3 separate regions of the Homo sapiens genome follow, and regions 2 and 3 are each linked to region 1. The links come from fine-mapping of genetic effects on gene expression. A gene starts in region 1. Each other region holds a variant in brackets. All regions are shown on one strand. Distances are from middle to middle. Region 1 holds the start of CC2D2A (coiled-coil and C2 domain containing 2A). Region 2 overlaps C1QTNF7-AS1 (C1QTNF7 antisense RNA 1). Region 3 holds the start of LOC124900672 (a long non-coding RNA gene).

The links.
Region 2: its variant is fine-mapped to the expression of CC2D2A in whole blood (TOPMed, PIP above 0.99).
Region 3: its variant is fine-mapped to the expression of CC2D2A in whole blood (TOPMed, PIP above 0.99).

What each region holds. Positions count from the first base shown.
Region 1 is chr4:15,465,149-15,473,335 of GRCh38, forward strand. It overlaps CC2D2A (coiled-coil and C2 domain containing 2A), which reads left to right and starts at 4,734. Exons shown (of 37, transcript NM_001378615.1): 1 at 4,734-4,909.
Region 2 is chr4:15,416,925-15,425,111 of GRCh38, forward strand. The region is part of intron 1 of C1QTNF7-AS1 (C1QTNF7 antisense RNA 1); the gene reads right to left. It also overlaps a transcript of C1QTNF7 not described here. Among named protein-coding and RNA genes, the nearest start is that of C1QTNF7-AS1, 6.9 kb to the right of the region's middle. The variant G/A (reference allele first, on the strand shown) is at 3,405.
Region 3 is chr4:15,506,782-15,514,968 of GRCh38, forward strand. CC2D2A (coiled-coil and C2 domain containing 2A) reads left to right here. Exons shown (of 37, transcript NM_001378615.1): 7 at 3,358-3,459; 8 at 4,466-4,642; 9 at 7,926-8,088. It overlaps LOC124900672 (a long non-coding RNA gene), which reads right to left and starts at 7,926. Exons shown (of 2, transcript XR_007058062.1): 1 at 7,675-7,926; 2 at 831-1,329. The variant G/T (reference allele first, on the strand shown) is at 4,441.

The DNA of each region.
Region 1 (8,187 bases):
AGGGAAGGGAGAATGGGGAGTTGTTATTTAATGGGTGTAGAGTTTCTGTTTGGAGTGATGAAAAAGTTTTGGAAGCATAGTGGTGACAGTTGCACAACATTGCAACTGTGTTAAAAACTATTAAATTATACACTTTAAAATGGGTAAAATGGCAAATTTCATGTATACACATTTTACCATAATTTTTAAAAAACTTATTAGACCCAGACAATTGTATAGACTTCACAGAAATGATAAAGCTATTTTTACTTGAACTGTTACAAAGATGAGTGAGAGAGAAATATTAGTCTGCTTTTTTTTTTTTTTTTGAGGTTAGACTATCCTTTATCCTAAAATGAGACAAGAACAATACAAGGCTGATCTCAGCTAAGAACATAAATGCAAAAATTTCTAGAAAGTGGTAATTAAATCCAATATTAATTTTTGAAGTATCTTGACAAAATTGAGTGTATCCCAGGAATGCAAGCACAATTTGACATTAAAATGCCTGATAATGCAATTCTCTACACTAATAGATGAAAGAATAAAAATAATATTTAATTATCTCAAAAGATGTAGAAAAAAGCTTGTGATAATGTGATTCAACATTTATTCTTGATGAAAAACTCTTTAGCCAACTAGGAACACTTAACCAAAAGAATGAGATTTTTGTGTTATGATTTAAAATAAATTTGCTAGATTCATTTATTTTGCTTACATAAGAACTTTTGCAAGTAATGGTGTTTTGCAATGATACTTTTTAATATTTTTGGAACTTAAGAAGTTGTATGATTCTTATGAATTAGTTCAGTATTAAAGATCAAAGAGGACGTGCCCAGCTAGCTCTGTTGGCAGACCATGAGACTTTTAAAATATCAGGGAGGTAATAATCAGACGGTTAATTAGCAAAAGAGTGGTGAACAAGTCCTTCCTCTCATGGCAGCTGACCATTTCAAGTAGATAATCTCTTACGGTAAACATTCATATTTTTCTTCACTTAATAAACCTTGCAACATTTACTATGTGCCAGGACTGTCCTAAGTGCTTCACAATTATTAACTTAACAAATTTCCTAACAACTCTCTCTGGAATAGTTACTATTATTAAACCTCAGTTTCCTACAGAGAAGGAAACTGAAACCTAGAAAGGTTAAGAAAGTTGACCGAGATCCCTCAGTTGTAAGACAGAGCATTCAACTTCTTTCTCTCTCCTCTCCTTCTGGTACTGTACTGGATATGGTGGACCTCATCAATTTCTCCCTGTATCTTTTACCTACTCTTTCCTATTTTCAATATCTCTGTGCCACATTTCAATTTTTTAAACCTATCTTTTGCATCTCTTCAGCTCTCTCATCTACAGTTTAGCACATTCTTTGACTTTTATCTAAATTTGTGACTGTATTATTTATTTCTAAAAGTTCTATCTGGTTACTTTTTGAATTTGTCTGATCTTTTTGATAGTGTCTCACTCTTCTTTCATATTTTCAAATCCTCCTTGTATCTTCTTGAATATTTGGTCATTGTTATTTTTCCACTCTCCATCTGATTATTGTATTGCAAGAAACTCTTGAGTATCTAATAGTGTCCTCTGGTTTGTCTGTGGACTCTTGAGTGTTTCTCTTCTGTTGTCTAATTTTGGGTTGTGAGCTCATCTTCCTCTGTGTTTATTTGTGGACATCCTGAATTGTCCAATTGAAGGTGTGTTCCTCCAGAAAAGTTTTGTAATAACTTCTGCCTGGCACCCCACGGGGATACAGTAGACAGAGGCCACTTTTTAAAAGTTATCACTTAGGGGCCTCCTAAAATATATAAGGAGCATAAATAAGACAAACTGCATGGTGCAAACCAATGGTTGTAAATTCTTCATATTTTTCTCACCACATGCAGAATACAAGCCAAGACAGACAAGTTTTCTTATTGTCTTCTTTTACCAGCACGAGATAGTAGATTGTCCCCTTCAATTGGAAAATACATTATTTCATACAGTTGTTCTTGTATTACTCCTTTGGTAAATTATACTTTTCCATTTTCATGGTTCTCTCTTTTTATAACTACAAGCATTAAATTTCCTAGCCTGAGATCCTTTAATGTTTTTTGTAATGCTTTTCTGTAAGGGCAATATGCTAGCTTTGTCATTGGAGGATCCAGAAATGTCAGTATGTAGGGTCTGTGCTTTATAATCATTCAGTTTTTCCAGAAAATAATTTTCTACTTTCTCCAGTTTTGTGCAGGTAGAGGTAGGATGGGGGAGCCAATGGCATGTTCTTGATTGTCTAAGTTCTTGAGAAAGGTTCAGAAAGGGCCCTGCAACATCTTCATTTCATATACAGTTTTCAATCCTGAGACACACTCACTTGCTGCAGTACCTGGGAACTTGAGACCAGAGAGTCTCTGGTTTAACTTCCCTAGAAAAGAAACCGCCAGTCTCCTTTGGGCAGCAGCAGATGAGGCAGATGTGGAGGACGGAAATTATGCCTGAGGAATGGGCATTTTTCAGGCTGCCAAGAAAAAGGATCCTGAGGATCAATCCCTTAATATACAGACTTTCAAATCTTCCTGCATTTTTAGCCCCGTATCTCTCCCCACCTTCCTTAGTCTATGGTTGTATTAGTTTCCTGATGCTGTTGTAACAAAGTACCACACACTGAGTGGCTTAAACAGCAGAAATTTTCTAACAATTCAGGAGACTAGAAATTTGAAATCAAGGTGTGGCAGGGTTGATTCTTTGTGAAGCTTCAAGAGACAGTCTGTTCCAGGCCTCTCTCCTGGCTGCTGATAGCCTTGAGTGTTCCCTGGCTTGGAGATGGTGCTCTCCCCATGTCTTCACGTTGCCTTTCTTCTATTTTGTCTGTCTCTGAATCCAAATTTCCCCTTTTGTAAGGACGCAATCATCTTGGATTAGATCTCACTCTAATGACTTCATTTTAATGTGATTACCTCTGTAAATACCCTATCTCCAAATAAGGTCCCATTCTGAGATACTGAGGTTAGGACTTCAGCATCTTTGGGGATGAGAGAGAACACAATTCAGCTATAACACTGCTGCCCCAAATCCTGGCACAGTAAATCAGCTCATTTCCTCATATTCATGCCTACGTGCACACCCCATCATACACAGACACACACACACATACATACACGTACAGAGACACAAACACAAATACATTGACACATACACATGCATGCAGGCTGTGTCAAAAAATGTACTCTGGATTTGTTTTAATTAGGTATGGTAAGACACACAGACACAAACATGATTGGCACAAAAGAAGAAGTTTATACTTAACAGATCCCTAGAAACAAGAAGCATGGTGTCTTGGTTCGTTTTCTGTTGTTGTAACAGAATACACAGACTGGGCAATTTATAATGAACAGAAATTTATTTTTCACAGTTCTGGTGGCTGGGAAGTCCAAGATCAAGGGGCTGGCATCCTGCAAGGGTCTTCTTGCTGCACCATCCTATGGTGCAAGGCAAGAAAACATGAGAGCAAGAAAGAGAAAGAGAGAAAACGAGGCCAAATTCATTCTTTTATAAGGAATCCACTCCTGCAATAATGGCATTAATGCATTTATGAGGGCAGAGCCCTACAGCCTAATTGCCTCTCATTAGGTGCCACCTCCCGACACCATTGTGTTAGGGATTAAGTTTCCAATACATGCTTTTGGGAAGACACATTCAAATCATAGAACATGGCATGCCACACAGGACCACATAGGGAAGAACCAATGTTGGTCAGAAGGCAGAACGGAGACAGCAGAGTACAGCACAGAGCCTTTACTAGGGTTTTCCCAGGAAGGAATAGGTGAAGCAGGGTAGGGTGCTGCATAAATTTAGGAGTGGATAGCTTGAATAATCGTGGTGTTCTCTGGGCTATAGTGGTCTGGTATCTGGACCTGGGGTGACTTAGGACAGGAGGAATATTGGCTTAGTGTGTGAGAGTTTGATAATGGAGATGGTTGTGTGGGCTCTGGATTGGTTGGCTTGTATATCAAAGGAGACTTTGCATATTTCAGGGGAATCATTTGCTATCTCTAGAAATTAGCTAACATAGGAGAATCAGTTTCTCCAGGATCAAGGCTCCAAATGCCAGAGCATCAAGAATACAGAAAATAAGAAGATACAGTCAATACACATACACACAAACATACACACACCATACACACAGACACAAATACACACAAACACATGTGCACATACACACTAGTCTATTGGAGTGTGTTTCCTTGGCTCCATTCATTCTATTACTCTTCCAGCTACTTTGCCTCCTACCTCTCCCTCTTTTTTTTTTTCCAACTTTTTTGAGCCATAACATTTATATCCGTTTTCAGGAATTGCAGTGGGATTCAGAGAATAGGCAAAGATTAAACTTGTGCGTTCAACCTTCCACTTTTAACTGGAAAACACTCAAGTGCAACATTTGTTGGTACTCTGCAGCACCTCCACAGAGCTTTTGCTGCTGCCACGTTAGACAGCTTCACCATGTAATGACGACCTTTTAAGATTCTAAATCCCCCCACCTCTGAGCCTGTTCTTCATTGGAAATGCAAGACGACCGGATGACATGAGGGAGGGGCAGCTCTTAAGGCTTGACCTAATTTCCAGTGCTGCTCATGTTGATTTCTCTCCGTCCTTCTACTGCAGGCTGTGCGTCTCTGCTTACCCAGCATGCTTGTACTCCACTACTGGAAGTAGCCTGTCACTTTAAAGGAAAAAAAAAAAAGCTACCGAGTGACCTTCCTTAGGAACGGGTTGCTAAGCTGGTGTTTTTGCTCCAAGACATGGCTGCAGCTTCCCAGGGAGGAGCCCAGGGGCATCTCCAACACTCAGCCTTTCCCTCCGGACCCTTTTAAAAGATTCAACAGCACCGTCTCTCTCCACTTCCATCCTAGAATGCAGAATCTGCAAAGTGCCTTTTGTAAAGTTTCTTAAGGTAAATCAGTCCCTAACCGGACTTTAGGCTGCAACAGTGATTTCCTGTTTTCAGTTACCCGGCTTGAAGTTCAGCCTCTCCAGGATACCGTGAGACTGGATTTAATGAATTGTAAATTTAGGGGCTCTCATCGTTATTTATGTTTTTACTTTCTGAAATGGGAACATAGACCATTACTTGGCAGCTTTGATTTGAGCTGCTATCTGGTATCTGGTTTGCAGGAAATGTAAGTCCAGTTCATCACAAGTCCTGAGTGAAAATGCTCTCTGACCAAAGCTCTGTGAAACATTAGCTGCGTGTTGCATTTATGGGCCTTTTAGTTCAAACTGGCTTAAGGGGAGAAGCACTAATTACTGCAAAATACACTTTTCTTGGTATGAGACAGAGAAAGGGCTACTAACCACAGTGCTAAGAGTTGCTGTGCTTTCCAAAGACTTCAAGAAAATGTACTGGCTACAACTTAAGCTGATTGTTTGTTTCCCTTCATTGCAAAGAGGTGGTATGAAAAGCTAATAAAGTCAAATAAGAAATATGTTTGCTACTGCATTTTCATATAACCTTTTCTGCAAATAAATTCAGCACCAGCATGAAATCTCTCTCTCTCTCTCTCTCTCTCTCTCTCTCTCTCTCTCTATATATATATATATATATATATATATATATATATATATATATATCCTAGAGCTCACTTATAGAGTCATTCATTCAAACATTTATGGAGCATCAACAATGCACCAGGCAATGAATTTAAGTTTAGAGTGTGCAAACATAAATTAGACTAGGTCAGAAGCTCAGAATTTGCTGGGAAAACAGACCTATAAACACATGATAAGAGTACAATGAGCTAAGTGCCATAAGAGATTTATAAAAACACTGAGAGGACAGTGGGATGACATCCAGGGAGGGGCTTCCAGTACTTAGCACATCATGTAAATGCACTGGTCATATATCACGTAACACAGCTCAAATATGGTACTCATGTGTACTCTTCAAGGCCAGTGTACATTATATCGAGCTGATTAAATGATTCTATAAAGCTATTGGTCACTAACCTTATGCTAAGGGAAACTGCAGCTGGAATAACTTGTAGAATAAGATAATGTATTCCAAAACAATGTATGTGGCACCTCCCCAGGTGTCCAAGCTCCAGGAGGGAACAGAAAAATGTTCTCAGGGTGTGAGGAAGAAAATACTCATGGGTAGAAGTGCAGGAGGTTTCAGAAGCACCATAAATGGAAACAGCAAGGCAACTGCCCTGGGCCTGGCTGAAGGGAGGGAGACATGAAACATGAGTTATGGTAGCTGGGGGTTGAAGATTGGAGCTGAAGGTGGGTGGGCTTGAACATCACCTAAGGTCTTTCTCATGACTCCTCTTCTATCCCCCAAGCTCTTTTCCCTCCTCATTCCTTTTTTCCACTTTCCCTCCCCACAATCACTTTTTCTTAGTAACAAAACCTACCAATATTGAGAGCCCAGCCTGTGCTAGGCATTTTACTACACACATTTCATCATTTAGCCCTTATAAATTAATCATCCTTCAAGGTAGGAAGTATGATTGCAATGTTGCAGACAAAAAAAAAAAAAACGTGTCTCAGAGAAGGGAGGGCATTGTTCCAAGATCACACAGCTAATAAATAAAGCTGAAGTTGGAACTCAGGTCCACATATTCCTTGGCAAAGAAATATGTGGACCACTCTTCCTATAAACCCATGTTTTTGCCATCCTGGAGTAGGGCATATATATTGTATGATTTTTTAAGCAACCAATATGGAGTTGAGATGCGTTGTATCTCAACCTCCAGGTATGGCTCTGACCCACTGATGACTCTTAGGAATAGTCCATTTATTCAGATGAAGGTGTCAGTACTTTCCTTGAAAAAATATATCTGGTTTTCTGCACTGAGTAAAATAAATCATTGGCTTAATGTAGCCTAAGCCTTTTCTCACCAGTGCAATGCTTCACAGCTTTCAACTGTAAATATTTCCAGAATAGCCCACTATTCTGGAAAGCACAGAATAATTATTGATGCCATTGCAAAAGCAAGAATAAATGGTGAGATGGAGGGGTAGAGTGGAGTGAGGGAGGACTCAGGAATCACAGAGTCTTGGGATCAAGTTCTGAATGTGACATTTAATAATTATAACTTTGGAAAAATCATGTAAATTGTCAGAGCCTCAGTTTACTCATACGCAAATTGGGGCACATACTACTAAGCCAGACATGTTATTGTGAGGACTAAAGAGAACATGTCTATAGTTAGCACAAAATAAGTGTGCAGTAAATCATAGCTATTTTGATGTTGCCAGTAGGAATATATTAACAAGTACCAGTGCATAAGATGATGGCAAACTGCATATTAAAACCAGGCAGTATTGATTTATCTTTTCTTAGCAACAGTGTTCATATAAAAAATAAATTTCGGTGTCATTTGATTTCCTTAGAAACTCATTTAAAGGAAATGATCAGGAAAGAATGAGGAAAAAAGAAAATCCCATTACATTTTTCATTTTCTACTTCTATTTTTTTCTTCCATATAAAGCATTTATTAACTTATAGAGAACTTTTTTTAGTTACTAAAATGTTTCACAGGTTTTTTTTTTTTTTCAGTTTGCAATGACCAGAGTTGTTCATTAGAGAGCTCTCATGTACTTTTGCATTTCATCTTTATTATCTGCCCCCTCATTCACTCTAGGTTATCTCCTTGCCTCTCTATTTTCTTAGCTGCTTTTACATTTTCCTTCCTCTATTTTTTGTACCCTGTGATGAGGTTTGTAGAGAAGACAATAGAATTTCAGATGCTTTATTTCCCTTTAACATGCTAATTCCCCTGTAGGGTCAGTGAAACCTTGATCTCAGATGAGCTGCTTAAATGACCTGACCAAGTCCCAGTTAAGATTTGGGTTCCAAGGATATTAGAAAGGGCTTATGATTTGTCAGCCATATGCCTGTTGTTTCTCCATGTGTTTTCTCATTTAATCCTCACAGCAGCCTAGAAGAAACAGTGGAGCTTTAAATAGTCCCAGAATGTGGCTATGGAACCACAGCCAATAAGTCAGTGACTTAATCATTCATTCGACAAGTATATATTGAATGTCCATGATGTCCCATAATCCTAGTCTCTGGGGGTAAACAATAAACAAAATAATGTTTCTGCCCTCTTGCAGCTATATTCTAATGGATATGGGCTGACATTAACAAGTAAGTATGTATGTTGAGTGGTAATAAGTACTGTGAAAAAATCATTGTAAGGTAGTTAGGGAATTCCAGGAGGGTGTTGG
Region 2 (8,187 bases), 48 kb before region 1:
TATTGCATTCTCTCTAGTCTTAGCTTTATTTCCCTATACAAAAGATTTTTCAGGGATAGCCCAAGTAGTGATAGTTTTTCTTTTCCTCCAGATCTTTTATGTTATAAAGAAATTTAAAAAATTATAAATTTAGCTAAATACCCACCTTTTATTCTTTCTCTGTCCTTCAGTTAACAAATGAGGACCTGAAACTAGTGCATTTCATTCCCATGTATACTTTTAAAATTTTTTTATTGAAATGAAACTCTCATAATGTAGAATGAACCACCTTAAAATGTACAATTCAGCAGCATTTAGAACATTAACAATCTTGTGCAGCCACCAACTATATCAAGTTCCAAAACATTTTCATCACTTCAGCAGAGAACCCCATACTACTAAGCAGCTATTCCCCATTTCTCACTCCCCTGAGCCCTTGAAAACTATCAATCTGCTTTCTGTGTCTATGGATTTATCTATTCTGAACATTTAATATAAAATGACTCATGAAACATGTGACTATGTTAGTCTATTCTTGCATTGCTATAAAGAGATCCTGAGGCTGCATAATTTATACAGAAAAGAGGTTGAGACCAGGCACAGTGGTTCATGCCTGTAATTCCATGCCTTTGGAAGGCCAAGGCAAGAGGATCACTTGAGTCCAAGAGTTCAAGAACAGTCTGAGCAGCATAGTGAGAACCTGTCTCTACAAATATGGTGGCACACACCTGTGATTGCAGATACTTGAGAGGCTGAGGTAGGAGGATGGCTTTAGCCCAAGAGTTGAAGGCTGCAGTAAGCCATGATCAAGAAAGGCCCCATCTCAAAAAAAGAAAGAAAGAAAAGAGGTTTAATTGGCTCACAGTTCTGCAAGCTGTATAAAAAGCATGGTGCTGGCATCTGCTTCTGGTGAGAGCCTCGGGAAGCAAAGGAGGAAATGGGCCACATGGATCAAGTGGGAGAGAGAAGGGAAGAGGTGCCACATACTTTTAAACAACCAGATCTCTCAAGAACTCAGTCACTATTGCAAGGACAACATTAAGCCATTCATGAAGGATCCATCCCCATGACCCAAACACCTCCTACCAGGCCCCATCTCCAACACTGGGGATTACCATGGGACCAGAGAGAAGGTTCGTCAGGATGAGCCCGCATGGACAAGTGCCCAAAAGGCTTCCTGTAAGAGGCTACATCTTACCCATCAGCTCTTAAACAAAAGTTTGTTGAAAATCTCTCCACTTCTCTCGTTATCCTTTGTAGCCACAGTGATCAGCCATGATCATCTTTGCCCACTCAGCTGCATCAGCCTCCCAACTTGCTCCCACCTCCCCTCCCCAGCCCTCTCTAATACCTTCTCCATCATCGTTTTATGCACAACAAAGATCATGTTCTCCTCTAACCCTCTCATGGAACCCCATTGCTGTTAAGATAAAAGCCAACCTCTTCAGGCCCTGAAATGACTTGACCCCTACTATTTTTCTGACCTCCTTTCTTACAGGCCATTTTGTCTTATAAGTTCCAACCCATTGTCCTTTCAGTTACTATAATTCCCGAAGTCCTCTCCTGCCCCAGGGCCCTCTCACATACTGTTCTCCCTCCCTGTGAGGCTTTTATCCCATCTTCACCTGGCTAAGTCATCCTCAGGTATCCCCAGGTATCTCATCCTTAGAGTGACTTTCGCTGATCTCCCAAACCACAGTAGGCACTCTTTTCAATCTCTTTCACCAACCCCTCTTCTCCTTTGTAGTGCTTATCTCTCTTTAGTTATATAGGTATTTACTAAAAAGAGGTAGTAAAATACAGTAGTTAAGTGTCCTAAGACCACATGGCCTCAGGCAAGTTATTTACCTCTTCTGCCTGTTTTTCCATCTGAAGAATGCAAAGAATAATAACAGTAACCTTCTCCTGTGGTTGTAGAAAGACTGAGTTGGTGTATGCAGAGCCCTCAGCACAGAGTCTGCCCAGAGCCCCTGGCTGAGACTGTGTAGGGAATTGGGGGCATTTATGCAAAATGACCACTGAGATGCCACCCAACACAAAAATGGCACAAATGCCAATACCATTGTGGAACAAGCTTTGACGTTCTCTTCACAGCAGAGGTTAGCTTCACTAACCTTTAAAGTTACTTCCAAATCTGAGATTCTGTGGCTCCGTCTGTGTTCCAGGGACAAAAGGTGCCTGGCTGTGGGGGAACTTACATTCCCCAGGATTTTGTTTTTATACAGGGACAAGGCAGTGTAAATTCACACAACCTTTTGGAAAGCAGTTTGGCAGCATGTACCAAAAAAGACATAAAACATACAGACCTTTTGATCCAATAATTCCATTTCTGGGAATCTATCCTAAGGAAATAATCCTAAATAGGGATAAAGGCTTATGCACAAAACTTTCAATGTAATCTCATTTATACTAGGAAAAAATAGAAACAGCTTAATTGTCCCCTAATAGGAGAGAAGGGGGTTAAATAAATTATTGTACAACTACTTGATGGATATCGTTTGGCCATTAATGGCTCCAAAACATAACAGGGGAAAAACACTTATGATATAATATTAGGTTAAAGAAAAAGCACACAGCAACAGTGTATAGGTACTATTACAAATCTTTGAACAGAAGACCTATGCATACACAGAGAGAACAAAAATAACAGAAAGAAAGAAACTAAAGTGGTAACAGTGGTATAGTTCTGAGAAATAGAACTAAATAAATAATGATTTACTCTTGTTTTCCTACCTTTTCCTCCTGATATTTCGTGAGCGTATATTTAAAATAAAATACAAATAGTTCCATAGGACAAGAATAGATAATATATGAGGTTAAAAAAATAGCATATGTATTTTGATCAAAAAGTGTATATACTATGAATAGGAAAAATATTAGAAGGAAATCACATACATATATGCACACACACACACAAACATACACACACACGGCCAAACAAAAACCAAACAAACCAAATCTGTGCCTAATCTTCTAGAATCCCACTATATTAGAATCCTTGCCAGTGGTGGGGTGGTTTTCTTACCTATCTTTGCCCAAGTGTGCTTCATTTTTGCTGCCTCCCATCCTTTCTCCAGATAGCAGTCCAAGAAATCTATCTATTAATAGGAGTCACATACGATTCTCATCACTGGCAAACTCTTCACTGGCTTCTTAATGCCCTGAAGATAAAGTCTAAGTTCCCCAAGAAAGCTTTAGCCTCAATATCCACAGCCTCCGCAACGGGCTCCACCCCCCATCCTTCTTCCTCCTCACTCTTCTCCAGCCTCCCCAGCTTTCTCACTCTCCAAGGTGCCTTGTTCTCTCTCAATGCCAGGCTTTCACTGAAACCATTAGCTCTCCATGAAAAAACTACTTATTCCATCCTGGCACTTATTTTCTCAGACACCTTACAGTCAACCTTCAGTTTTCAAGAAATTGCTTAG[G/A]AGTTCAGTCCCTAAGGAGAGTGTTTCTGATCACGTAGATGAGATTATCCTGAAAACACAGATCTAAAGTGCATCCAAAGACATGCATTTCCTAGTCCCAACAAGAACGTAAACTCTAAACACTATTGAAAGAAAAAGGAATGCCTCTAACTTAAATCTGCTCCTCCCTGCACCAACAGAAATCAACATTTTTTGAGTTTGAGTAGCACAAATGTGTCAGTCAACAAGATGCATTACTTCATCAAACTTTATAACAACCTTACTTCATTTGGATATTTTTAAAATTTCAATTTATAGAAGAGAACACTAAGGTTTCAGAGGGGTAATCCTCAGAGTCTTTTGCCCAAGGCAATTTGCCCAAGGTCACATGGCTGGACAATGATGACTTTGTCCTTCAAAGTCAGCAGTCTTACTCCACAAAGAAATGTCAGTGGGAAGGGAGAAGACATGAAGATTTCTGCTAGTTTAGACTCTAGGGTAACATTCCACTGCTTTGTCTTTTTTTTTTTTTTTTTTTTTTTTTTTTTACCAAACCTCAGTGCTCAGCTTTCCTCCCCAGCACACTGAGTCATTGTTGGATTTCCCAGCTCTCGCTCCAATGTGATGGAGTCTGCTGAGGACATTGTTTTGGCTGGAAGTGAATATGTATGCAAGAGGCACCACCTGCCGCTAAATCTTTGCCTTTGTTGGGTCTAATATAGCTCTTGACCCTGAACTTGGCTCATGTCCTCAGGCACCCTCCCCACAAAATGCCTCACATGTTTTTAGCAATAAACAAAGTAGAGAACATGGGCCCCCCATTATCCGGATAAACGTTTAGAAACACCAAAATGTTCAAATAGACCGAGATGACTGAAAAAAAAAGAGAGTTGAAGAGCTTTTTCTACTAAATAATAAATGTAAGGTATTAGCACAATATTGTTACAATCACCACTATTTTTATGCCTACATAATGTCACAAAGACACTCTCAACATTCTGTGGCTGGAGTGGTTTGCATCATTGAGTGGAGGCATTGCTTCCAGGTCTCTGGCCTTCGGATGGTTTTCAGGTGCAAACAAGAGGAGCATAGAGAACCCAGGATAGTCAATGGCACTTACCAAAGAACAGTAGCCAAAGGTCAATGGTAAGAGCAGCGGCAGCTATGTCAGCACTGTTCACCCACTTCATATTTACGGAGCACCCACGAAGTGCCAGGCAACAGGGACTCATTTTCTGGGGATTATTTCAATTAATTTTTACAACAATCCAAGGAGCCAAGTACTATCACTCTCCTCATCCTAAACCGAGAGCTTGGTTTGAAGGTCAGACAAATCTGGGTTTGAATGCCAAATCTATCACTCAGTAGCTGTGTGACCTTGGGCCAGTTCTCTCATTTAGAAACTTCAGTTTCCACACCTGTAATAAGGAGATAATAATACCTACTTCGCTAAGTGGTCAGGACTCACTGTAGGTAGCACATAGTAGATGGTTAATAAATATATAGATATAGATATTTAAAATTTGTGGTACAACCGTACAATGGAATACTATTCAGCAATGAAAGAAACATGCAACATGAATGACTCTCAAAAACATTATGTTAAGTGAAAGAACAGAGCCTCAAAAACCCACATATTGTAAGATTCTATTTATATGACACTCTGGAAAAGGCAAAATTACAGGACAGATATATGATCAGAGGTTGCAGGCAGCTGGGGTGGAGGAGACTGACTACAAAGGGACATAAGGGAACATTTTGGAGGGAATGGAAATGCTCTGTATCTCTTTTTTAGTGGTGGTTATACAATTGCATACATTGGCCAAAAATCACGAAACTATTAATACCAAAAGGGTAAATTTTACATTTTAATAATTATAATCTAATAAACCTGTTTTTTTTTAAAAAAAAAAAAAAGGATATTGCACAGATATGACAGCAAAGGAGCTTCTTAATCCAGATTCCTTGGGATTTGGCAGATTTTTTATCTCCAGTTCATTGACCTGAACATGCCTAGTTATTCTTTTCATATTTGCCTATCTGATAATTCATCCTATTTTCCCCAGGGCAGAATAAATCAAGAGGTGAGGAAGGAAAAGAGCTTACTTGGAAAATCCTTCCTCCTGAAGACCAAAGGATCAGGGAAAATGCATTCTCATCTAATATCTACCCTAACCTAACATTATTTCATCTAATATTATTTCCTGTCCATTCAATGCTAAATTTCCAAATAGCTCAGTGGGTACATGGAAATTCATTATCTACTTGATCTCTGTTTTTTAATATGTTTAAAACTTTCGATAATTTTTTTTTTTTAGAAAGGGTCTTGCTTTGTCACCTAGGCTGGAGTGCAGTGGTGCAAACATGGTTCACTGCAGCTTCAACATCTCGGGCTCAAGCCATCCTCCCACCTCAGCCTTCTGAGTAGATGTGCCTATACATGCACTCCAGCAATGGCTGGTTTTTTATTTCTTTTTTATGTATTTATTTATTTTTGTAGAGATGGGGTTTTGCCATATTGCCCAGGCTGGTCTCAAGCGATCTTCCCACCATAGCCCCCCAAAATGCTGGAATTACAGTTATGAGCCACCACGTCTGGCCAACTTTCTATAAGTTTTTAAGTTTTTTACGTTTTAAAATATGAGAAGTGATATTTTGGACAAGGTAAAGTATTATGATCTGGGATAATGCTATATTGTTAATTCACATTTATCCACAAGGATGGATATTTATGTAGATTAAAACACTGGATTGTCTTCTACATGTGAAGTAGAAACCAGGTATCAGTGAAGGCTGTAGAGCAAAGACTCTTTTGGCCACCCTGCAGGGACCTGAGTTCCAGTTCTGGTTTAGCATAAATAGGTTATTTGGGCAAGTCACTTCTTACTGAATCTGGCTTTTTATCTGTGAAACAGGAAACTCAAGCAGATAACCTCTGAGATCCCTTCTTCTCTAACAGTGTGAAATTCCCAGTGCAGTGTAAGAACTGTGAGTTGAGATCCTGTCTTCGCTTTCAAGCTGTATGTTCAGGGCCCAGCACAGTGCCTGGCACACACAGGGGTCAATGACATTTGTTCATTCCATGAGTCACTGAATTGCCTTTTTTAAATATGCAAACTCCTTTTCTCATAAGAACCCACCTCTTTCCCTGCAATGAAAGCAGATTCAGTTTAGAAACCAAACTGAGTCATTTCAGCTGGTTGAAGTCCGCTTGAAAAGCCAGGAAAGCGGCAGCAGGCACCACCTCTACCTGGTCAACAGCCTGGTTCATGAAATCCCACTCACAGCCCTTCTGAGGAACCTACTGACCCCAGGATAAGGACCAAAACCTCCCGTGGCCAACAGAGCCCCGCCTGGCCCAGGCACATCCTCCCTGCAGGCTTATGCCTGCCTTTGCTCTTTCCCACTGGCCTCCACTCAGCATCATCCTCTTCCACCTCAGGGCCTTTGCATATGACATTCTCTCAGCCTGGATGTGTTTTCCTGCCCTTCTGCCAGGTTCATGCCTACCGTTTCCCCCCCTTTTAGGTCAGATGTCATTCCTTTAGGCAAGTTCTCTCTTATTTAGGCAAGTTCTTTAGGCAAGATTCAACTGGGTTGTCCGGCTAAACACTCCACAATATCCTTTATTTTTTTCCTTCAAGCATTCTCCAAAACTTATTGAGTTTATCAAATGGTATTAACTGTCCTTAATATGAAATGAATAAAAAATAACCTCATTTTTCTTCCATCATTTGTTCTAGCCAAATTCTGTTGGATCTTTCTTCCCTGCCCTTTTATGACATCTCAGGCAAATTTCTTGGCTTTCTGGTAACTTCCAGTTACATGAACAATTTTATTAGTCAATTGTGACTCATTTTCAGATATTAAAAAGACAAATCTCAATCAAATTTTCTATTTTATATCCAATACAATACTTGTCCATCTCCATGGCTGTAGTTCAGGATATGCTGTACCCTTTCACTCTTCCCCCATCTCCTGCCACTTCCTTTCACTTTCAGCTCCTCTTGAGTCAGGTCAGAGAGTAGAATAATCAGGAAAAAAGTGACTGAATTATTCTTACTTAGTAAGTGCTACTTGTATGATCCTCTCCTGGCTCCAATGTCTGCTATGCACTCCAGGTAGCCAAATGCTGGCTCTTTCGGGGTGAAGGTGTTCCTTGGTTGATAGCTTGCAGTGCTCCCCCCACCAGCCTCAGATTCTGTACTCAGTGATACACCCAGTGACTTCTTAGTGGCCTCCCCCCACTAGGAGGACTCCTTGGCTCAGGAAGTCCCATCACGATGGCCCCACTCAGCTGCCTTCCTCAGTACCATCTCCCTCTTGGGGAGTGCATATATTCTTGCCTCTCTAACAGCTGCCCCTGCACTCCTCTCCCTTCTCCACAACTCTACCTTGATGCCTCTCTTCAACCACTAATCTTTTCTGAATTTCTAGCTTTCTTTTATGTGGACTGAAAATGGCTGATGGTCACTGTCAGATCCAGCTGGATTTTAACAAGTTCTAAGTCGATGTATGAGCATTGGTTGCCTATCATTCTCTGCTTTGTGTTCTCAGCTGAAATTCCAAGTGGATGGGAATTCCCAATTCATATCCTGTTAAGCACAGTTCTGTGATTATTTCATAAATATCTCTCTTCCTCACTAGATTTTGTCTCTACAAGGTCTCTTTGTTTGCTCTCTACTGAATACCCAGACCAAGCATTCAGCATCTGACATATAGTAGCAGCTAAATAAATAAGTGATGAAGTAATAAATAAAAGAACAGGATGAGACACAAAGAAGACCAGATTTGTATCACTACA
Region 3 (8,187 bases), 42 kb after region 1:
AAAAATCCTAGGCCGGGTGCGGTGGCTCTCGTCTGTAATCCCAGCACTTTGGGAGGCTGAGGCGGGCGGATCACGAGGTCAGGAGTTCGAGACCAGTCTGGCCAACATAGTGAAACCCCATCTCTACTAAAAATACAAAAAAAAAAATTAGCCGGGTTTGGTGGAGGGTGCCTGTAATCCCAGCTACTCAGGAGGCTGAGGCAGGAGAATCTCGTGAACGCGGGAGGCAGAGGTTGTAGTGAGCTGAGATCATGCCACTGCACTCCAGTCTGGGTGACAGAACGAGACTCCATCTCAAAAAAAAAAAAAGAAAAAAAAATCCTTACACTGGGTAATACTCATCTGCTTCTTTCCTCATCCTCAAAAACATTTAAAATACTGAGACAAATAATAACTTCATTTAGCATTGCATTGTGGAATGTATTGATTAGCACAGCTTCAACTTCTGTACAATTGAGTTGGTAGATAACTATTTAACCTTAACACTACAAAATGAGAAAATGAAGGAGAAGTATAGAATTCAACATAAAAGGAAACTGTATACAGTTGCTTGATATTATGATAGATTATACCCAACTGACACCCTCATTTTTATTCTGGCCATTACTGGACATCTAGCTGCACCTAAGTGAAATTTGACAGCACCTCACTTTAGCTGTACCTCCAGGTTTCATTCCAGGGTATCCCTTCCTCTCCAGAAGGCTTGCGGAGGCCCACTCATGTATTCTGACACATATGCAAGACTGGAAGCACCAACTATGTAGAGGCCAAGGGGACACTTCCTTGTCACCCTCTGAAAGTTCACTGAAAATCAGCTGACAAAAGGCAGATTAATAGGAGAAAAGGCATACACATTTATTAGTGTGCAAGGAGTAAAGATAATTACGTACCCTTCATCCTAGAGGAAAGAGAGATGGAGAAGTGTGGGTGATTTTAGCAAGTAGAAAATGATTTTTAGGGGAATTCAATGGGCTTGGAGAACGTAACAGTGGCCTCGGACAAAGTCTGTTGGGCCCGCAGAGCAGACAATGGTTTTTGACTAAAGTCTGTCCAAGTGTGTTGATGGACTTCAGTCTTTCTTCCTGCGATATGGGTACAGTTAATGAACACTCAGGAGAGGGACCAAAGGTCACTGTTTTCTTCTTTGGCAGGTTTGGACTCAGGCAGCTAAGGGAACTTCAGAGAACAACCTCATCCTGTGCTTTAGGAGAGATAGGGAATTTGGCATCCAGGGTAGGGGAGGTCAGAGAGAACTTGAGGCTTCTTCTTCAGTTCAGCATGTCAAAGCACCATATTTTGGGCCATCTGTTTCTGAGCCCCTCCAACCACCTGGGGGACAGAAGCCATTAGACAAATATTCCCCTCTTCTGTGTCCCTGGTGGACAATTCTGAGAAGCAGTCTACGTGACTCCTCAGAGGATCCCTGTGGGTTAAACTCTCTTGCCCACAGTGGTAGCCTTGTCAATCAAGTTCTCCTGCACTCACTTTCCACCTGCTTTATTCTTCCCAGTCCCCAGTTCCTGTTCTTTGGTGTCACTTCTCAGAGTCAACTACAGGCACAGAAAAACCCTTGCCACAGGCTCTGGTTTCCCATGGGCTAAACTAAAATGTTTAGTCGTATCATATGAATACAAACTATAGACCAAAAAAAAGACATGTAAGAAAAAGCTAGTAATATGATAATAATGGCTACCATTAATGCACCTGACTGGTTATATTTTATGTACATTTCCTTATTTGATGCTCTACTCAAGTGGCCTAAGTTGTAAGTGGTACAGTTAAAATTCAAAGCCAGGCAGTCAGACTTTAGAGCCTATGGTTTCAACTGCCAAGCTCTACAAGACAGTGCCTGATATGAATCAGACAATTTGATTCCAAAAAGAGAGTTCATTTTAGGATGGAGAAAGGAAGTAGCTTTGTGTGGTCTTGAGGAACAGGTAGGACTTGGGAAGGATATATTGAAGGTCCCCAGTGAAGATGGCACACTACATGACTGTTGTTGGGTGACAGTTATTCCATGCTGTGAAATAATTCTCTGTCCATATAATAATGATCAAGTTTCTGTCATAGGTAGAATAAGTATGTTCCTTCTTGCCATGAACACCTATATGTGCTACTGGGATGGCTTAGAATTGCTCAAAATTGCTTGACATTTAGATTGTGCTTCATGAAAAAGGAGGAGTATCTGGGTTTTAAAAGGGGTGGATTAGAAGGAGAGATGGGTAAGAAGTTGGAAACAGCACCTTGCAGATTAGCTTTCAGAGGCAAAAGGGAATACCCATATGATAACTATCACATAGAGCAAGTAGAGACAGAGGGCTCAGCTTCCCAGGGTGGATAGCAGGACCAGAGGTTCAGTGAGGACAGGCCATGTACCCTGGAGGATGTGTGTTGGACTTACTTACAATCAGACATTATCAATGTTTTTCTTTATAGACTGTTTGGAAATGATCCTCTGTGAAGTGGATAATCTTAATTTATAGGATGAGATAACACTTTTTTTTTTTTTTGAGATGGAGTCTTGCTCTATCTCCCAGGCTGGAGTGCAGTGCTGCAATCTCAGCTCACTGCAACCTCTGCCTCCCAGGTTCAAGGGATTTTCCTGCCTCAGCCTCCCCAGTAGCTGGGATTACAGGCGCCCGCCACCACGCCTGGCTAAACTTTGTATTTTTAGTAAAGGTGGGGTTTCACTATGTTTGCCAGGCTGGTCTTGAACTCCTGACCTCAGGTGATCTGCCCACCTCGGCCTCCCAAAGTGCTGGGAGTTCAAGCATGAGCCACTGCATCTGGACAACAGTTTTCATTTTAAAGCTTATTGAGTATACAATTTTACATTTGTTCAGTCTTGAGAGAGACGAGTTGAGTAAGAAAATATCAACATCAACCTTCAAATATACAGTCATGCATCACTTAGTGATGGGGATATGTTCTGAGAAATGTGTTCTTAGGCATTTTCGTCATTGTGTGAACCCATTGTGTGAAGGTACCTACACAAACCTAAATGGCATAGCCAACTACACACCAAGGCTGCAAACCTGAAGAGCATGTTACTTTTCTAAATACCATAGCAATGTAACACAATGGTAAGTATTTTTTTATGTAAACATAAAAAGGGTACAGTAAAAATACCGTATTTATAGTCTATGAGACCTCCGTCATGCATGCAGTTCTACAGGCTGTCGCTATGGAGCGCATGACTGCATTTGAAATTTGCCAGCATTCCATGCCTTAGGAATGATAAGATGCAGCAGCAGTCAGAAGATAAGCCTTTGGGATGGGGGGGTTAACCTTCATTTTAGAACAGCCTAAGTTTCTTGGGTTAAATGGTTTATCTATCATTTTTTTCCACTCATATAGCCAGGGAAAGAGGTAGAAAGGACTCAACAAGAAGTTGACTCCCAAAGTTACTCAAGAGTCAAGTTCCATGATTCTGCACGAAAAATCAAGCCTAAACCCCAGGTGAGAAATCTTGTTTTTTAAAATCATTTGTTTGTTTGTGTTTTTTACAAATATCCAATGACACATGACTACAGGCCGGGTGTGGTGGCTCACGCCTGCAATCCCAGCGCTTTGGGAGGCCAAGACAGGCAGATATATTGAGCACAGGAGTTCAAGACCAGCCTGGACAACATGGCGAAACCCCATCTCTACAAAAAATACAAAAATTAGCCAGACATGGTGGCACACACCTGTGGTCCAAGCTACCTGGGAGGCTGAGATGGGAGGATCACTTGAGCCCATGAGGTCGAAGCTGCAGTGAGCCATGATTGTGCCACTGCATTCCAGCCTGGGTGACAGAGTGAGACCTCATCTCTTAATTAAAAATAAATAAATGACTACATATATAACCTGACTCCTGTTGCCATGCAGTTTGCAAGAAAAAAGTATGAGAAGTGATTCCAACTTTCATACTAACTGGAGAGATCAGAATATTGCCTGACTTGAGGATGAGGGAGTGCATGGAAAGACAGGAAATGTTGGTGATAAGACAGTTTGTTCAGCTCTGAAGTTGCCCCGGCTTTCATTATAGGAAAAAAGGAGAGTACTAACTCCAAAAGAGAAACAACAAAAAAAGGTCATTTGTTTAAAAATTCTATATTTCTCATAATACAACAAAACTATCTCAGCATTGGCCAATAAAACAATAAATCCACTGTTTGTCATTTTAATAATCTTATCTAAAGTGTTTACTGCTATAAATATGTATTTACTTGTTGGAATGTAAATAATTGCTGGGGTTTTTTAAAGTCACTAATTAGAGTTACTATTAAAGGAGGCCTCCAACTGCCTGTGGCAGATATTAAAGTTTATTACCAGTAGTCTCACACCTTTAACTAAGACAATATGCTTCGGAGGCCTGGAATATGCCTGATCTCATTAGCATTAAGCCAGCTGTCAGTTAATTGTGCAGAGCGCATTACAGCTTATAAATGGGAAATT[G/T]CGATTGCTCCTTGCTTTTCGTTAGGTTCCACCTGGCTTCCCTTCTGCAGAAGAGGCCTATAACTTCTTTACTTTCAACTTTGATCCCGAACCAGAAGGATCAGAGGAAAAACCAAAAGCAAGACATAGAGCGGGAACTAATCAAGAGGAGGAGGAAGGGGAAGAAGAAGAACCACCTGCACAAGGAGGAGGAAAGGAAATGGTATTTAATATCAGGATGGTAATGAGGTGTGGGTGGAGGGCTAGGAGGAAAAAGCTGATGTCCCTGCAAGAAAGAAAGTGGCTGAGGAGAAACCTGCCACCACCAGGAGAATGACACTCCACGTCTGAGTTGAAATCCCAAGTACTGAATTCACATGGCTCCCTGTAGCTCTGGGTTAGACCCTACAATGTGGTAGGAAGAACCTTGATTAAACCTGTTTATTTTTCTTTTGTGGAAAAAAGAATTAAATAATGTGGCTTGAGGGTTTTTCTTGCTAGACTCCACGTAATGATTAGTATTTATTCCATGTGCAAAATATGTTCCTCTGCAAGGCAAATGAAATCTTGGTCTCTCTCTTACCACAACCTTACAAAGTAAGCAGCATTTTGTGCCCAAACACCACACCCAGGCTACAACTCAAATTCTGCAACTGTGGGTGGTATGTGTGAGATAAAAGGAGAATAAGCCATTTAAAAATGGGCAAAGGTATTGAATAGACATTTCTTCAAAGAAGACATACAAATAGACAATAAGCCCATAAAAAGATTCTTAACACCAATCATCATAAGGGAAATGCAAATCAAACCCACAATGAGATACCCCTGCACATCCATTAGAATGGCGCTTATCAAAAAATAAGTGTTATAGAGGATATGGAGAAATTGGACTTTGGTGCGTTGCTTGTAGCCATGTAAAACAGTGCAGCTGCTGTGAAAAACAGTATGGTGGTCCTTCAAAAGTTAACCACAGATTTACAATATGATCCAGCAATTCAATTCCACTCTGTGTATATATCCAAAAACACTGAAGACAAGAATTTGAACATATACTTGTGCACCGATGTTCATAGCAGCATTATTCACAAAAGCCAAAAGGTAGAAGCAACCCAAGTGTTCATCGGAAGATAAATGGATAAACATAAATATACAATGGAATATTATACAACCGCAGAAAGCATGGAAATTCTGACACATGCCACAACATAGATATACCTTGAAGACATTACACTAAGAAAAATAAGCCAGTCACAAAAGAATAAATATTGTGTGATTTCACTTATATGAGCTACATTGTATCATCAAAATCATAGAGACAGAAAGTAGAATGGTGGTTGTCAGAGGTTAGAGGAAGGAGGGAATGTTTAATGGGTATAGAATTTCAGTCTGGGAAGATGGATGGATGGTGGTAAGGGTAGAATCACAATATGAATTTACTTAATGCCACTGAACTGTTCACCTAAAAATGGTTAAAATGGGCCGGGTGCGGTGGCCTGTAATCCCAGCTTTGGGAGGCCGAGGAGGGCGGATCACCTAAGGTCAGGAGTTCACGACCAGGCTTGGCCAACGTGGTGAAACCCTGTCTCTACTAAAATTACAAAAATTAGCTGGGTGTGGTGGCAGGCACCTGTAATCCAGCTACTCAGGAGGCTGAGGCAGGAGTATTACTTGAACACGAGAGGCAGACGTTGCAGTGAGCCGAGATTGCGCTATTGCACTCCAGCCTAGATGACAAAGCAAGACTCTGTCTCAAAAAAAAAAAAAAGGTTAAAATGGTGGACTTCATGTTATATATATTTTACCACATTAAAAATAAGGAAAACACACTAGGATATTCTAGTATTCACATAATTGGCATACTTCTGTGCTTCACTTACAATCTCCTCCCTTGAAAAATGCCTCCCGGAAATGTACTTTTTTTACCTAGATCTACAGAAGCTTGGGAATATTTTAGCTTATTCTATAACAATCATTCTACAAATCAGCATTCAGGCCATTCAACATTGCTTGAGTGTCCTCCTGACATGACAGCTAACTTCCCAAAAGCAAGTGATCTAGGGGAGAACCCAAAAAAGAAGCCACAGTTCCTTTTATGACCTAGTCTCAGGAGCCACATACTGTCACTTCTGCCATATTCTACTCAGGAGAAGCAAGTCACGAGACGTAGTGCACTCTCAAATGGAGGAGAATTGGGCTTCACCTGTTGAAGATAGAAGTCTCCAATTGCGAATATCTTCTGAAATTATGGCACTTTCCTCCAAAGGCCACTTCTCCCTTCCTTTTGCCTATTCACTGCCCCAGAAGCTCTGTTCCTAAAACTGCTCTTTTAAATCACACACATTTGGAAGCCCTTCCCTATAGTCCATGCTCTGCTCTGCCCAGACACTTTTAAAGTATTTTCGTCTTCAAGGTTCATTTAGCCTTTTTGAACAAAGTTTTAGATCCTCTGTAGCCCCTTTCGCTAGCTCCCCTTTTCTGTCTTCTCTGCAGTTTTTCTCTGGGTGATTTTGCTCACCACGAAGCAGAGGTGGGGCAGGAGAAGGAAGATTACACACTGCCATCTGGTGATCTTTCTCTTTTCACTTGTTTGATGTTTTGGCATTCTCTGTCTTCAAGTTAAGTTAAAAGCATGGTTTCTACATAGATTCCCTTTTTCCTTCTTATTCTTTTGTGTACTTGGGGAGGAAATCTTAAGAGGCAGGTAGCTAGACTGCCATCATTGTCTTTAGCTACCTGAAAGTCTCCACAGGATTTTAAAAGATGTTGCTCATAAATGGACACCAGGTTTAAATTTTTAAAAGAAGGAGAAGGAGAAAGAAAAAGAAGAGGAAGGAAGAGAAGACGTTTAGAAAATATCCAAACAAAATCAATATATGTCAGCTAACATTTGTGATTATAGCCTCTTTGCTTTGAATTTTTAAGTGTATCATTTAATTTTATCCCCACAAAGTGCTTAGAGGTAAACTCCATTACTATAACTATCTTATAAGTGAGGAAACTGAGGATCAGAAGGTTAAATAAGCTGTTTCAAGTTCCTCAGGCAGTATATGGTGAAGCTGGGATTTAAACCCAGGCAGTCTGAACAGGGTGTGTGGACTGTGCACCTATACACTTGGTGCCTTTTCCCTTGGTTTAGTGCCAGGTGGAAGGTTAAACTGCTACATAAATTATGAGCCCAATTCTTTACATAAATGGCAAGAAGCAAGCAGTCTCATAGGAGGCCAGATTTGTTGGGATTTTGATTGTTTTGCTTACCACTTCTCTTCTGAAACAGCCATCTCTGATTTTGACATCTTCCAGGTGTGCAGAATACTGCAAAACAATTTTTTTAAAAACCCACTTGTTAAATATGAAAGGTTATATAGTTCTATGCTTTCACTTTTTTAAAAAAAGGAAAAGATAAAGTTGTAGGAAATGTTAAGTTTCATGAGTTTGGTATTGTGAATTATTTTTCTAACTAAGAATCTTAGCATGATTTTTTCTTGTTACTTTTTAACATTATGCAGGATGAGGAAGAACTGCTTAATGGTGATGATGCCGAGGACTTCCTATTGGGCTTAGATCACGTGGCTGACGATTTTGTAGCAGTCAGACCTGCAGATTATGAAAGCATCCATGATCGGCTGCAGATGGAAAGAGAAATGCTCTTCATACCCAGTAGGCAGACAGGTACTTGCTCTTTTTATTTTCTTGTTCAGCTTAGACATCGTCACTTACCTTGTCATGAAATATGGCTAGTGTATAAGGATGCCTCATCTCCAGAACTGA